Regions from separate parts of the Homo sapiens genome. Here all the other regions are reported to be linked to region 1. Evidence: microRNA targets listed by miRTarBase, many of them from high-throughput screens and not tested one by one. Region 1 holds a microRNA gene; each other region holds the end of a gene's coding sequence.

The links. The annotated mature microRNA hsa-miR-6760-5p reads CAGGGAGAAGGUGGAAGUGCAGA and lies in region 1 at 2,404-2,426, shown strand. An mRNA with a match to its seed (bases 2 to 7 or 8) in the 3' UTR can be bound and repressed. Matches are read on the target gene's strand: a 7mer-m8 pairs with bases 2 to 8, a 7mer-A1 pairs with bases 2 to 7 and ends in A, and an 8mer does both.
Region 2: miRTarBase lists IDH3A as a target of hsa-miR-6760-5p. Seed matches in the 3' UTR shown: 7mer-m8 at 2,461-2,467.
Region 3: miRTarBase lists ZNF444 as a target of hsa-miR-6760-5p. Seed matches in the 3' UTR shown: 7mer-m8 at 579-585, 8mer at 620-627, 7mer-m8 at 675-681 and 7mer-m8 at 694-700.

The regions. Positions count from the first base shown.
Region 1 is chr12:111,301,744-111,305,891 of GRCh38, forward strand. It overlaps MIR6760 (microRNA 6760), which reads left to right and starts at 2,399; the gene lies at 2,399-2,466. It overlaps CUX2 (cut like homeobox 2), which reads left to right. Exons shown (of 22, transcript NM_015267.4): 10 at 2,467-2,571. All of the region lies in intron 2 of LOC105369983 (a long non-coding RNA gene), which reads right to left.
Region 2 is chr15:78,168,658-78,172,657 of GRCh38, reverse strand. It overlaps IDH3A (isocitrate dehydrogenase (NAD(+)) 3 catalytic subunit alpha), which reads right to left. Exons shown (of 11, transcript NM_005530.3): 11 at 713-3,736. The coding sequence ends at 3,653. ACSBG1 (acyl-CoA synthetase bubblegum family member 1) reads left to right here. Exons shown (of 14, transcript NM_015162.5): 14 at 1,129-4,000. The coding sequence ends at 1,214. Among named protein-coding and RNA genes, the nearest start is that of IDH3A, 21 kb to the right of the region's middle.
Region 3 is chr19:56,159,845-56,163,844 of GRCh38, forward strand. ZNF444 (zinc finger protein 444) reads left to right here. Exons shown (of 5, transcript NM_018337.4): 5 at 1-1,049. The coding sequence ends at 357. Among named protein-coding and RNA genes, the nearest start is that of GALP, 14 kb to the right of the region's middle. RefSeq lists an enhancer at 2,601-2,700.

The DNA of each region.
Region 1 (4,148 bases):
TCCTCTCACAGTCCTGGAATTATAGGCATGAGCCACCATGCCCAGCCCCAGCTAATTGCTTTAAAACCCAGCTTTACTGTTCAGGGGCTGTCTCCATGATGTGGGTCTCACCCACCCTTGATGTCTAAACACATAAACCTCCAGGGAAGGAAACCTCTGGGGTTCTCAGTAGCTAATCAGCCATGAGTTGAATTTTCAAGGCTTGTCCTTTAGTCCAGATCTCAGCTTTCAATCAGATATGCTCAGGGTTCCCTAACTGTACAGAAACATAAAAATATTTCCTTTACAGTCCCACATACCAGGAAACTCTTCCCAAAACAAAATTGACTTGAACCATTTCTGGAACAAGGCAAGATACGTATAAATAAATAATAAATTCAAATGTGAACATGAATGTGTATGGGTCTCAATATGCATACATTGGGCATAGCATCCTGATTGTCCAGGTCATTATGTAGTTAAACATAATCACTATGACCTGCATTACCAGCCAAAGGCAAAAATACAGCCACAGCTCTTTTAATTCTCTAAGTAATGGCTCAAGTAATATACCCTCATGATGTTAACAAAGTTAACCAATTATTGATGCATTTATATGTGCCAGGCACCAAGCAAAGATATCTACCAAATTGCATTTGGCCAAACCACTTCATTTGCAGAACAACCCTATGAGATAGTTGCCTTTATAATCCCCATTTTATTAATAGGGAAACCGAGGCTGGGGAGATGAAGCCTCTTGCCTAAGATCGCATAACCGGAAAGTTGCAAAGTCAGAATGTGAGCCCAGATTTCTCTCCAAAGCCACAAGATTAAATGTATTAACATTTGAATGCTTCCTTCCAGGTAGAAATTTTTTAAGAATTAAGATCTACCAGCTGGGTGTGGTGGCTCATGCCTGTAATCCCAGCACTTTTGGGAGGCTGAGGTGGGTGGATTGCTTAAGCCCAGGAGTTAGAGACCAGCCTGGCCAACATGGAAAAACCCCGTCTCTACTAAAGATACAAAAAGTAGACAGACCTGGCATCACACACCTGTAATCCCAGCTACTCAGGAGGCTGAGGCAGGAGAATTGCTTGAACCCAGGAGGTGGAGGTTGCAGTGAGCCAAGATTGTGCCACTGCACTCCAGCCTGGGCAACAAAGCAAGACTCTGTCTTAAAAAAAAAAAAAAAAAAAGAAAAGAAAAAGAAATCTACCAGCTGGGCACAGTAGCTCATGCCTGTAATCCCAGCACTTTGGGAAGCCAAGGCAAGTGGGTTACTTGAACCCAGGAGTTCAAGACCAGCCTAGCCAACATGGCAAAACCCGTCTCTATTAAAACTACAAAAATTAACCCGTCATGGTAGTGCACACCTGTAATCCCAGTTACTCAGGAGGCTGAGATGGGAGGATCAATTGATCCCGGGAGTTGGAGGTTGCTGTGAGCCCTGATTGCACCACTGCACTCCAGCCTGGGTGACAGAGCGAGACCCTGTCTCGAAAAAAAAAAAAAAAAAAAAAAAAAATCGACCATAGACCCAGTTTAGTGAACTGCTGCATTCTGATTTTAACCACTCAAAACCTCTTTGTGTTAGATGTTTTCATTGCTCCCCATTTCAAAAAGAGAAACTGAGCTGGGCACGATGGCTCACTCCTGTAATCCCAGCACTTTGGGAGGCTGAAGCGGGTGGATCACCTGAGGTCAGGAGTTCAAGACCAGCCTGGCCAACATGGTGAAACCCCACCTCTACTAAAAATACAAAAAATAGCTGGGTGTGGTGGTGTGCACTTGTAATCCCAGCTACTTGGGAGGCTGAGGCAGGAAAATCTCGTGAACCCAGGAGGGGCAGCTTGCAGTGAGCCACGATTGTGCCACTGCACTCCAGCCTGGGTGACAAGAGTGAGACTCCATCTCAAAAAAAAAAAAAAGAAAAGAAAAGAAACTGAGACCCAGGGAGAGGAAGTGACTTGCCCAGGGGCTGCAATAACCTGTGGCCTGGGAAAGCACCTTTGCAGATGCCGTGTCTGGGACTCATTCCATACCAGGTGGCATGAGAGTTGGAACAGCTCTTGCCTTCAGACTAGCCAGGCCTGAAGTTAATGTGGCAGACAGAAGTATCTAGAAATGTGTGAAAACCTGCCAGTCCCACCCAGAGAGCCTCTCTCATCCTGCCTTCATAGAGCAGGAATGTTCTGACTCCTCTGGGGGTCCCAGGCACCCCACGAGAACCCAGAACCTCCTCAGAGGGGCATTTCTTCCTGTCCTCTCAGCTCAGGAGTAACCCCAGAGGCTGCTATTTCTTGTCCCCAGCCCAGACAGGGCTCTGTGACTGGTCTTCATAGCTCCAGGACAGGGTCCGGGACTAGGAAGGCAGGACCTGAGGCCCTCGGAGGTCTGCCTCCCCAACCCCTGCCTGAAACAGTGCAGGGAGAAGGTGGAAGTGCAGAGTGGGCTCACCTCTCGCCCACACTGTCCCCTTCTCCCCAGCGAGCTGAGGCTGCCCAGCGGGAGGTGGAAAGTCTCCGGGAACAGCTGGCCTCTGTCAACAGCTCCATCCGCCTGGCTTGCTGCTCTCCCCAGGGGCCCAGTGGGGTAAGGATGGGGTTGGGGAAGTGAGCAGGGAGGGCAGAGGGAAAGATCGGGAATGGCTGAGTTTGCAGGTTTCAGCATGTGGGTGACACTTTGTGGTTGATTGTGTGCATCCATTTGAAACTGGGAGTGTGAATGTGTGTGGGTCTCTGTGCATACGGTGAGCATAATCACTATGACCTGCTACACCAGCTGAGGATAAAAATACAGCTACAGTTCTTTACTTTTCAAGCCCACGTTTCCATATACCCTTTATTACCAGGAGTTCCAGTATCTTCCTTTGGAGGCCTCCCTTATCCCCAATTATCCAAGAATGCCAGGAACTTCCTCAGACCAAAGATCATTCTGATTTCCAGATGCACCAGCAAAGACATGGGGGAGAGGGAGTTTGAGGCAATACAGCAGCATGCAGTTTTGGTGGCTGCCACCAGGTGTCGCTGTTGAACACCGGTCATAGCAGCTTTGTGCATGCTTGGGATGGTGATGCCCCTGCTGGTTTTCAGTCCCAAAACTGGGTACTTTTAGGAGTGTGAGCCAGCCAACATATCAACAGGCAGTCATCACCAGGACTGCAGTGGGGCCACATACCAAGATAAAATTTAACATTCATACTCAGCCATTGGTTTCCAAAGCATGCCAGGTGATTCTAGGGGGATTTCCCACCCCAGCCACATGCTATGAAGAGCCAGTCTTCGGTGATCAACCCTGAGGTTCTTGTGTTAGGCCTGATTAATCAATTCATCTTTCTCTTTCCTCCTGGTTTGTGCCTCTTTGGGGTCCTAGTGTCATTTCTTGACAAGAGACTTTCATCAAGGCCACCCCAACCTACCCTTCTGTCCTATATTAGCAGTCTCCATCCTGGCTCTCCCAGAGAGCCTTGGGTTCATTATGTGAATTGGTCTGCCTTATTTCCAGATCTCTACATACCAAGGGGTGAGATTCATGATTCCTTACATAATAACAGGTCTGCTCCAGGGTGACTTCCCTCTCCACCCATGAACCTGAACTTGCGAGCATAATTTTCACTTCACCTGACACCCACATATACAGGCCCAGGTGTCTATGTCTCTCTTTCTGTTTGAATATTGGAATGAGTCTCTATGAATGTGTTACTGTGTATGTGTGTCTCTACTTGTGACCTTTGGGCAACTGACTGTATTCTTAACCTGACTGTGCCTCAGTTTCCTCATCTGTACAATTAACATCTACTTTATAGGGTTATTAAAAGGATTACATGAGTCAGGCATGGTGGCACATGCCTGTAGTCCCAGCCTCTTAGGAGGCTGAGGCAGGAGGATCACTTGAGCCCAGGAGTTTGAGTCCAGCCTGGGCAATACAGCAAGATCCTGTCTCTGAAAAAAAAAATGGATTATGTGTAAAGTGCCTAAAATGGTGCTTGGGTCATTGTATATGCTCACTAAGTACTTGATGCTACTGTTATAATTGTTAATGTGTCTTTGGTGTGTCTGGGGTGTTTTTGCTCATGAGAGCATGTGGCTTCTTTGAGCACGCGCATGTCTGTTGTGTGTGATGATGTGTCCTTGTGAGTGTCTCTCTTTGATGCGTGTGTATTTGTGTGT
Region 2 (4,000 bases), not on the chromosome of region 1:
TTGAGCTTATCTGGCTGTCTGCTGCCAGCATATTGAACGCAAGGTCAGAGAGACAGAAGATGTCTTCACTAAGCAGTTAATATAATGACTTTAACACAGAAAGTTTCCAGTTACACAGTCAAGAGTGAGTTAGGCACTTTAAGCTACCCAGGACCTCAAATCAGAGCTCTTTCAAACTTGCTTTTGGGGGATAAATCAAGGTTAAGAAAAGTAATTAGGGGAAGACCTCTCATAAAGACCATGGCAGAGGCTCCCCATAACCTGGGCTTCCCCTACCCCCATCACAACCATCAAAGCATAATGTCCAACGTTGTATAAACGTTCACAAAAATGCAGAGATGATGTGTACTAGCTATCTAATACATTGCTGTGTAACAAATGACCCCAAAAATGTAGCAGCCTAAAGCAGTAAACATTTATTATCCACATTTCTATGGGTCAAGAATCCAGGAACAGCTTAGCTGAGTGGTTCTGGCTTGGGTCTCACGGGATTACAGTCAATGTGAGCTGGGTGCAGTCACTTGCAGCTGAGGCTCACCTCCGCGCTCACTTACGTGGCTGTCGGCAGGCCTCAGCTCCTTGCTGTCTGCTGGCCAGAAACATCCGTGTGTGGCCAGTGGGCCTCTCATGGGCTGTGTATCCTCACAACATGGCAGCCGGCTTGCCCAGGAAGAATGGTCCAAGAGAAAGCCCAAGACAGAAACCTAGTCTATTTTTTAATTGCTTCAACAATTTATTCATTCAAGAGATGGAACAAATAAATCCATTTCAGAGAAAATGGACTGAGGGTCAAAACTGGGTACAGGTCAAGGAAAAGGCAGATGTAGCTTACACTACTTTCCTATGTGTATAAAAGAAACTGATCTTTTATAACCTATTCTCAGAGGTGACATACCAACCCTTCATCTATACTCCACTGGCCACAACCAGTGGTATAACACAGGAGACTACACACAAGCCATATGAATACCAGGAGCGATCACTGTCTTGGAGGCTGGCTACTGACGGTCCTGATTATCTGGCTTAATTCCTGAGTTATATATAGGACTGAGTGTGAGTCTTTACCACACACATTCTCAGAGTTCTCAGAGCCTGGGCCTCACTCATTTCTTCTCATTTCCCTTTTAGGTCCCACGATGAAACTGAAACGGCTCACAGTTTTGGAGAAGTACAAAGGTATCATTGACTCCTTTTACCAAGAGCAAAAAATGTAATCAGGGCCTATGCCTGCAGTTTCTATAGAATAGAGGGCAGGCGTTCCGAGCCTCTTCCTGAGCCCCAGGTCTCTTCAGTCTGGGCACAGGCATTTCTGCCAAGTCTGTTAGATCTCCAGGTCAGGGCACAGCACTGGCTCTACATTTACCAGGTCTTACGCCAACAATAGCTGACAATTCCAAGAAGCTTCACGTGTGGGTAGTTTTAATTCAGTTTAAGTATTGCTTTTTGTTCAGGTGACAAATGAGATCAGCTCTCCTTCCAGAACGAAAGGGCTGATAATTTTTGGCCTTAGTTCCAGGTAGATTAAAAAGCTGCTAGCTCACATACAGGACAGCCAGCAGTAGGCTGTGGAGCGGGTAGGAGAGAGATGGCTGATACTGCTCACGTGCGCTGCAGGAAAAGCAATCAGTCACAACTCACCTAGCGACCTGACTTACTCTGGAATCTTGGCGGGCATCGCCGACCCTATTATTCCATTACCAGGCACTCCGCCACCCACATGCCAACTGACTTGATGCTTAATAAAACTGCTGCTGCCTGTTTGATTCTATTTAATGTATAATTTGAATATTAAACCTTTTAACAGAACTGTCAACAAGGACCTGATTTTTTTTGTCAATTGAGCAGGTGGGACCAGTGCAGAGAGTAGTGGGCATTTAACTCACAGGACTGTGCACAGCGGGCATGCGAGTGACCATTAGTGCCCTGGAATAAACAAAGGTGCAGGATGGGGTCAAGTGGCGCATTCTCATAAAAGCAGCCAGCTCTACGTTAGCCTGTCGCCACCAGACCACCCCACTTCCATTCTGAATACGGGAAGCAGCCATTCTCAGTAGCAAGCTGAGCCAAAATGACCGAAGGCATCTGAACAGGAAACAGGTAGAGAAAGCAAACATCTCAGTTTTGGAATTCTTTATTACTTTGAACCCAAGAGCCACTGATAACTGGCACAATCCAATGAAACAGAGGAAGCAGCAGCTTAAACAAAGGAAAATACATTTAAGATTATAAGTCTGGGGGGGCGGTTACAAGCTTAAAAAGTGACCCAGACAGGGATATCATTGCTAAAAAAAAAAAAATCCCCTTGTGACCTGGGTACATTTTGCAAAGCCACAGGTTTGCAATGTTACACAAGGGCCAAAGGAGGCCATGAGTTGTCTTTGGTTGTGGGGACAGAGGGTAACTGTTCATGAAAATAGTGAGTGTCTGAAGATTAAGAAAATCATGCTGCAGCAGAGGAGAAGGGAGAGGAAGACAGGAAGGGAAAGGAGATGCCTGAGGGTCAAAAGCTGAGCCCAAGCCTAAGCCCAAGCTCAAGCTCAAGCCCCAGCATGGCATAATTTTGTGAATTAACTCAGGCTGAGTTGCCTCCAGTCTTTGGAATGTCATCTTATACTGGTACTGCTGAGGCAGAGGGCAGTAATTGGTGCTTTGGGATAGGAGAAGGGGCAGTTGCTGAAATACAAAATTAATAGCATCCCAAGTTCCTCAATTGCAGCCAAAATACATGTGTTCGGGCCTTTCGGCAGTATCGCCCCCAGAACTACCTGCTGTAGTGTGGTCCATTCCCAGACAGCAACATGCAAGAATAAGTTTACAATACACTCAGCCCTTCTGGCTTCAGATCAGGGGCTCAGAGGCTGTGACAACTCATGATGCTGAAAATGTATCCAGTGAAAATGAAGTACTAGCTCTCTGCTTCATTAAAAGCTCTTGGAAAGAATATTAAATCTCAAGACAACAAAATAATTGAACACACAATACATTTGTGTCTTTGTATCCAATATATTACCTTTGTCTTATTAACAAAAATTATATCTCTCATTATATATTTCTTGGATCTGAAGTTTTTATTCACACTCAGTAATTTCTGTAAAGGACAAATCTGTCTCTATTTTCCATATCATTTAGAAATATACCACATTCACTCTTTTTGATGTGAACTTTCCCAGGAAAATTCTCTTGTGCCCATTTAGTTTTAGAAGAGTGTCATTTTGTGCTATTATGTCAATATCCTGTTTTATTTCCATTATGTTTTTCAAAAACCGAAGAAAATAAGGTTTTTCTTAAAAAGTTAGACATTTTCTCTTGTTAATTCTGTATCCTGTTATTTACAGCTGAAGAGAAACTATTTTAACTTAAGTGTAAAATGGTTTAGAATAGCAAATGATACAGTCCACTCAGAGTTTACAAAAAAAACATTTACCAGGTAGACACTTAATAAATAAAACAAGCACTTGGAAAAAGTTCTTTGAAAACAGACCTAGGGACATCCACCTGCATCTTTTGCACAGATTTTGTTAAGAAAAGGCCAGATCTAAAAATGTACTGTCAAGAAACAAGCAAACCAATGCATACATACGTAGGTATTCTAAACAGAGGTTCATGTGGTGTCCATTTAGAGTGACTGATGTAAATGCCAGTTGTAGAAGTGTTAATCTAAATCTTTTACTCGGCGACAGATTTCCTCTGTGAAGTCTGAGCATTTTGCATTGCCTCCCAAATCTTTTGTCAAGCTCTGAGAAAAGGAAAAAGCAAAAATAAAAGATGTATCCGCAAACTAAACTAAACCAAGGAGATTTTAAAGCCCTCAGTGAGATGCCACCTGGGCAAGTTACTCGGCTGCTCTTTCATTTAGTTCCTCATTTCAAAGTGAGGAACCACTCCACCACCATCTACCCAGCCCAGGAGGATCGGGATCCAATCTCATAGTGTATACAACAGCACTCTGCAAAGAATAAGGTGCTCTTGATGCAAAGGGAGGCAGGGAGCTTTACCAAAA
Region 3 (4,000 bases), not on the chromosome of region 1:
CCTGAGTGCGGGAAGGCCTTTCGGCGCAAGGAGCACCTGCGGCGCCACCGCGACACGCACCCCGGCAGCCCCGGCAGCCCCGGGCCCGCGCTGCGCCCTCTGCCCGCCCGTGAGAAGCCCCACGCGTGCTGCGAGTGTGGCAAGACCTTCTACTGGCGCGAGCACCTGGTGCGCCACCGCAAGACGCACTCGGGAGCGCGGCCCTTTGCCTGCTGGGAGTGTGGCAAGGGCTTCGGGCGCCGCGAGCACGTGCTGCGCCACCAGCGCATCCACGGCCGGGCAGCGGCCAGCGCGCAGGGGGCGGTAGCTCCGGGCCCGGATGGTGGAGGCCCCTTCCCGCCCTGGCCCTTGGGTTAGCCGCCTCCCGGCCAGCGCCATCTCCCGCCCTTGGTGCTGCCCCCGGGCGGTACCTGCTCTCTCCCAGCGCCACTTGGCCTCTTCCTCTCCTCCTTCCCTCCCATCGTCCTCCTCCACCTGCGCCTCCCTTGTCTGAACTTCCCAACGCCTTCCTATTCCTTTCCAACTCCTTTTCCCCCAAATTTCACTTTCCTTCTCAGGTCTCACCTCAGCCCCCCCCTTCTCCCTGATTTCTCGGCCTCTCTCTCTGTGTGAAGGGGCCTCTCCCTAATGTCTCCTCCTTCCCCCCTCTTCTCTCTCCTGCGGCCCAGCCTCCCTCTCCCTCCTCCATTCCTCTCTCCCTGCCCTTTTCCTGCCTGAAGAGCAGAGGTGAGGACCTGGGACCCCTGAGGGGCAGGCCAGGAGGAGCTCGGGCGCAGGCCAGGCCCCCTTGGTGAAGCAGAGGCTGAAGGAAAGGGGTCTGGGTCTTGTCCCTAGGAATTCTCCTCCCTCAGGAGATTGGGGGTTGGGGGAGGCAGCGGGTGATGGCTCTGAAGCTGAACCCAGGGCCTGGCTGTGGTCTTCTTGGTCTTGCTGCCCCCTGTGACCCAAAGGCATGGGATGGACAGAGATGCCTGCCCCCGTGAAGCTGGTTGGGGAGGGCAGTTCACCAGCATCCATAGAGTAATAAAGTCACTGTGTGTAGACCCGGAGTCTGAGCTCTGTCTGGAGTCTGTCCGGCACAGCCACCCTCCCAGGGCCGAGCGTCTGGGGTGCCCGGGGCTTCTGGGGTCAGCTGTCTTGGCTCCCACCACAGACTCTCTTGGCATGAGAGAGGCTCTGGGAGTCTGGGCACAGCTGTGGGAGGCAGTGCAGGAAATGTGTCCTCAGGAGGGCTGTCCCCACCTCCATCCTACGGAGGCAGGGATGAGGCTCCTGGAAGGGACCTGCCGAGTGCCACACTGAGTCAGGTTCGCATCTGAGCCCTTCAGCTTCCTGGCTGGGAACCTACAGGTTGGTCATACCCTCTGGGCATGAGTTCCACATCCGCAAGTGATGATAATGGCACCCACCTCCCTTGCTAAGGCCACTCTGTTTGACTGGGGTCCTGAGTGTCAGTGTTGGTAGGTCTTGGGTGGCCCATTCTGCCACGCAAGGAATTCTCTCACCTTTAGCTGGAGCCATTGGCCGAGGGGGGGACTCCGTATGGAGGGCAGGCTTTGGCCAGCTGCATCTTTCCAGGATGCCACCTCTTGTCAGCTCAGCGAGCAACCCCGGTTCCTTCTCTCCAGAGAGGAAATCTGTAGCCTCTGCCGGGTGGATGAAGGGCAGTTGCCGGGCTTTGGAAAGCGTAGGATGAGAGCGCTGGTCTGACCACTCCCCTGCCGCCCAGTCTTGGGGCTGGCTTCACCCTGGTCCTTTTGGTTCCTGTGTGCCCAGCGCCTGAGCCTGGGAGGGGTTCTATGTCAAACCCTCCATGGTTGCCGCCTTGTGGCTGAGCCCGCCACGGTACCACCTTGCGTCCAAGCCCCCCCACGGTCACTGCCTTGCTCTCTGCTTCAGCTTCTGGCTCAGTGTCAAGGGCTGGGGCAGGTACAGCCTGTGCCGGGCTGCGAGGGCATCTGGAAACAGCCACCTGGACGGTCCAGTGCACATCACTGGAGTCTAGGTCTGCCTTCAAGACTCAACAGTGCAGGGAAGGGTTTAGGTGCCAGGCTATCCAGGAAGGGCAAGTGACCACAGGCCTCAGCACCCACCTCCTAAGACAGGACTGGTAGTAATGCCCCTCCTGAAAAGGGACTGTTTTTGAAAATTAAATAAGGCTGGGTGCAGTGGCTCATACCTGTAATCGCAACACTTTAGGAGGCTCGGGTGGGTGGATCACTTGAGCTCAGGAGTTCAAGACCAGCTCGGCTAACATGCTGAAACCCCGACTCTACTGAAAACACAAAAATTAGCCAGGCATGATGGTGGACACCTGTAATCCCAGCTACTCCGGAGGCTGAGGTGGGAGGATCACTTGAACCCAGGAGGCAGAGGTTGCAGTGAGCTGAGATCGCACCACTGCCCTACTCCAGCCTGGGCAACAGAGCGAGACTTCGTCTCAAAAGAAAAATAAGGTAATGAATGCAGAATACTTACGGGAACTTGGTGTGTGATCTCAGCCTGCTGCTTTCACACTGACAGGTGCATGTTAAGGACGTTACCATGCCCACCGTGTGGGGAAGAAGACGGGCTGGGAGAAGCCGTGTCGTCTGCTGCAGACTTTCAGGAAGTGACTAAGAGGCATGAGAGGGAGTATGAGGTGGTGTCAGGCCAGGGTCTGAGGACAGGGTTCTGATAACAGCAAACACAGAGTGAGTCTGCTGGGCCAGACCTTTTTAAAATCCAGTTTGTTTATCATCATAACCAACCGATGAGGCATGCACTGTTGTTATCCCCATGGTACAGATGGGGAAACTGAGGCACCAAAAGAGTAAGGGACCGGGCCACATCTGTGGATCTCATCCCAGGTGTCTGGGCTCACAGTATTCACTCCAGCTCCTAACAGCACAGCTGCTGCTTTTGCCCATTCAGGCTCCATCTCTTCTCTTCTGAAAAGCCTCCCGGGACTTCTGTGCCCCTTTGGGGACCCCTCCAACACACACACACACACACACACACACACACACACACCCCGTGTCTGGTCTCGGAGGGACAGTCGGCCAGGCTGTCCTGCCCCACTCTTTTGTGTCACTCAAGATGGACAGTCCCGGATGGATTGGAGGATGCTGGAAGAACACCCCTGCAAAGGACTAGAAACAAGGCGAGACCAGATAGATGGAGATCTGACTCCCGCACCCTCCTGCACCCACACCTGCTAAGCCTGGGGGAGCTTTGGTTTGACATCCGATGACGAGTGGTGTCTGCCTCCGAGGCTGTATAACGGAGTGGAGGATGATCCCCCCCAAACAGGAGGGAAATTCTGGAAGGCCGAAACAAAACTTGAATATTCTCCGCATGGGCAACAGAAAACTTTCCAGAGAGACAACCTAGCAGTCCTTCCTCAGAGTGGGCGGTACTTCCACGAGAGTGCGCAGCCTTTCCTCAGACTGCGCAGTCCTTCCTCAGAGTGCACGGTCCTTCCTCAGAGTGGGCGGTACTTCCACAAGAGTGCTCAGCCCTTCCTCAGACTGCGCAGTCCTTCCTCAGAGTGCACAGTCCTTTCTCGGAGTGTGCAGGCCCCAGCCAGACAGACTGGCACAGGTGCATCCGCAGAAGGTCCTGCATAGCGCTGTTCCTCATGGTGCTGCTTGGGATGGCAGAGAATCAGAGCAACGTAAATGTCCGTTACTAGGAGAGGGGGAACGAAGAAACATTGTTCAGGAAAAGTACCGAAACGTGGAAGTAGGCAAAATGTCAATTGTGCAGCCTTCTAAAATCATGCTCAATTGTCTTAAAAATAGTCCTGCCTGGGCCGGGCACTGTAATCCCAGCACTTTGGGAGGCCGAGGTGGGTGCATCACTTGAGGTCAGGAGCTCGAGACCATCCTGGTTAACATGGTGAAACCCCTTCTCTACTAAAAAAAAAATACAAAAATTAGCCGGGTGTGGTGGCGAGCACCTGTAATCCCAGCTACTTGGGAGGCTGAGGCAGGAAGATGGCTTGAACCTGGGAGGTGGA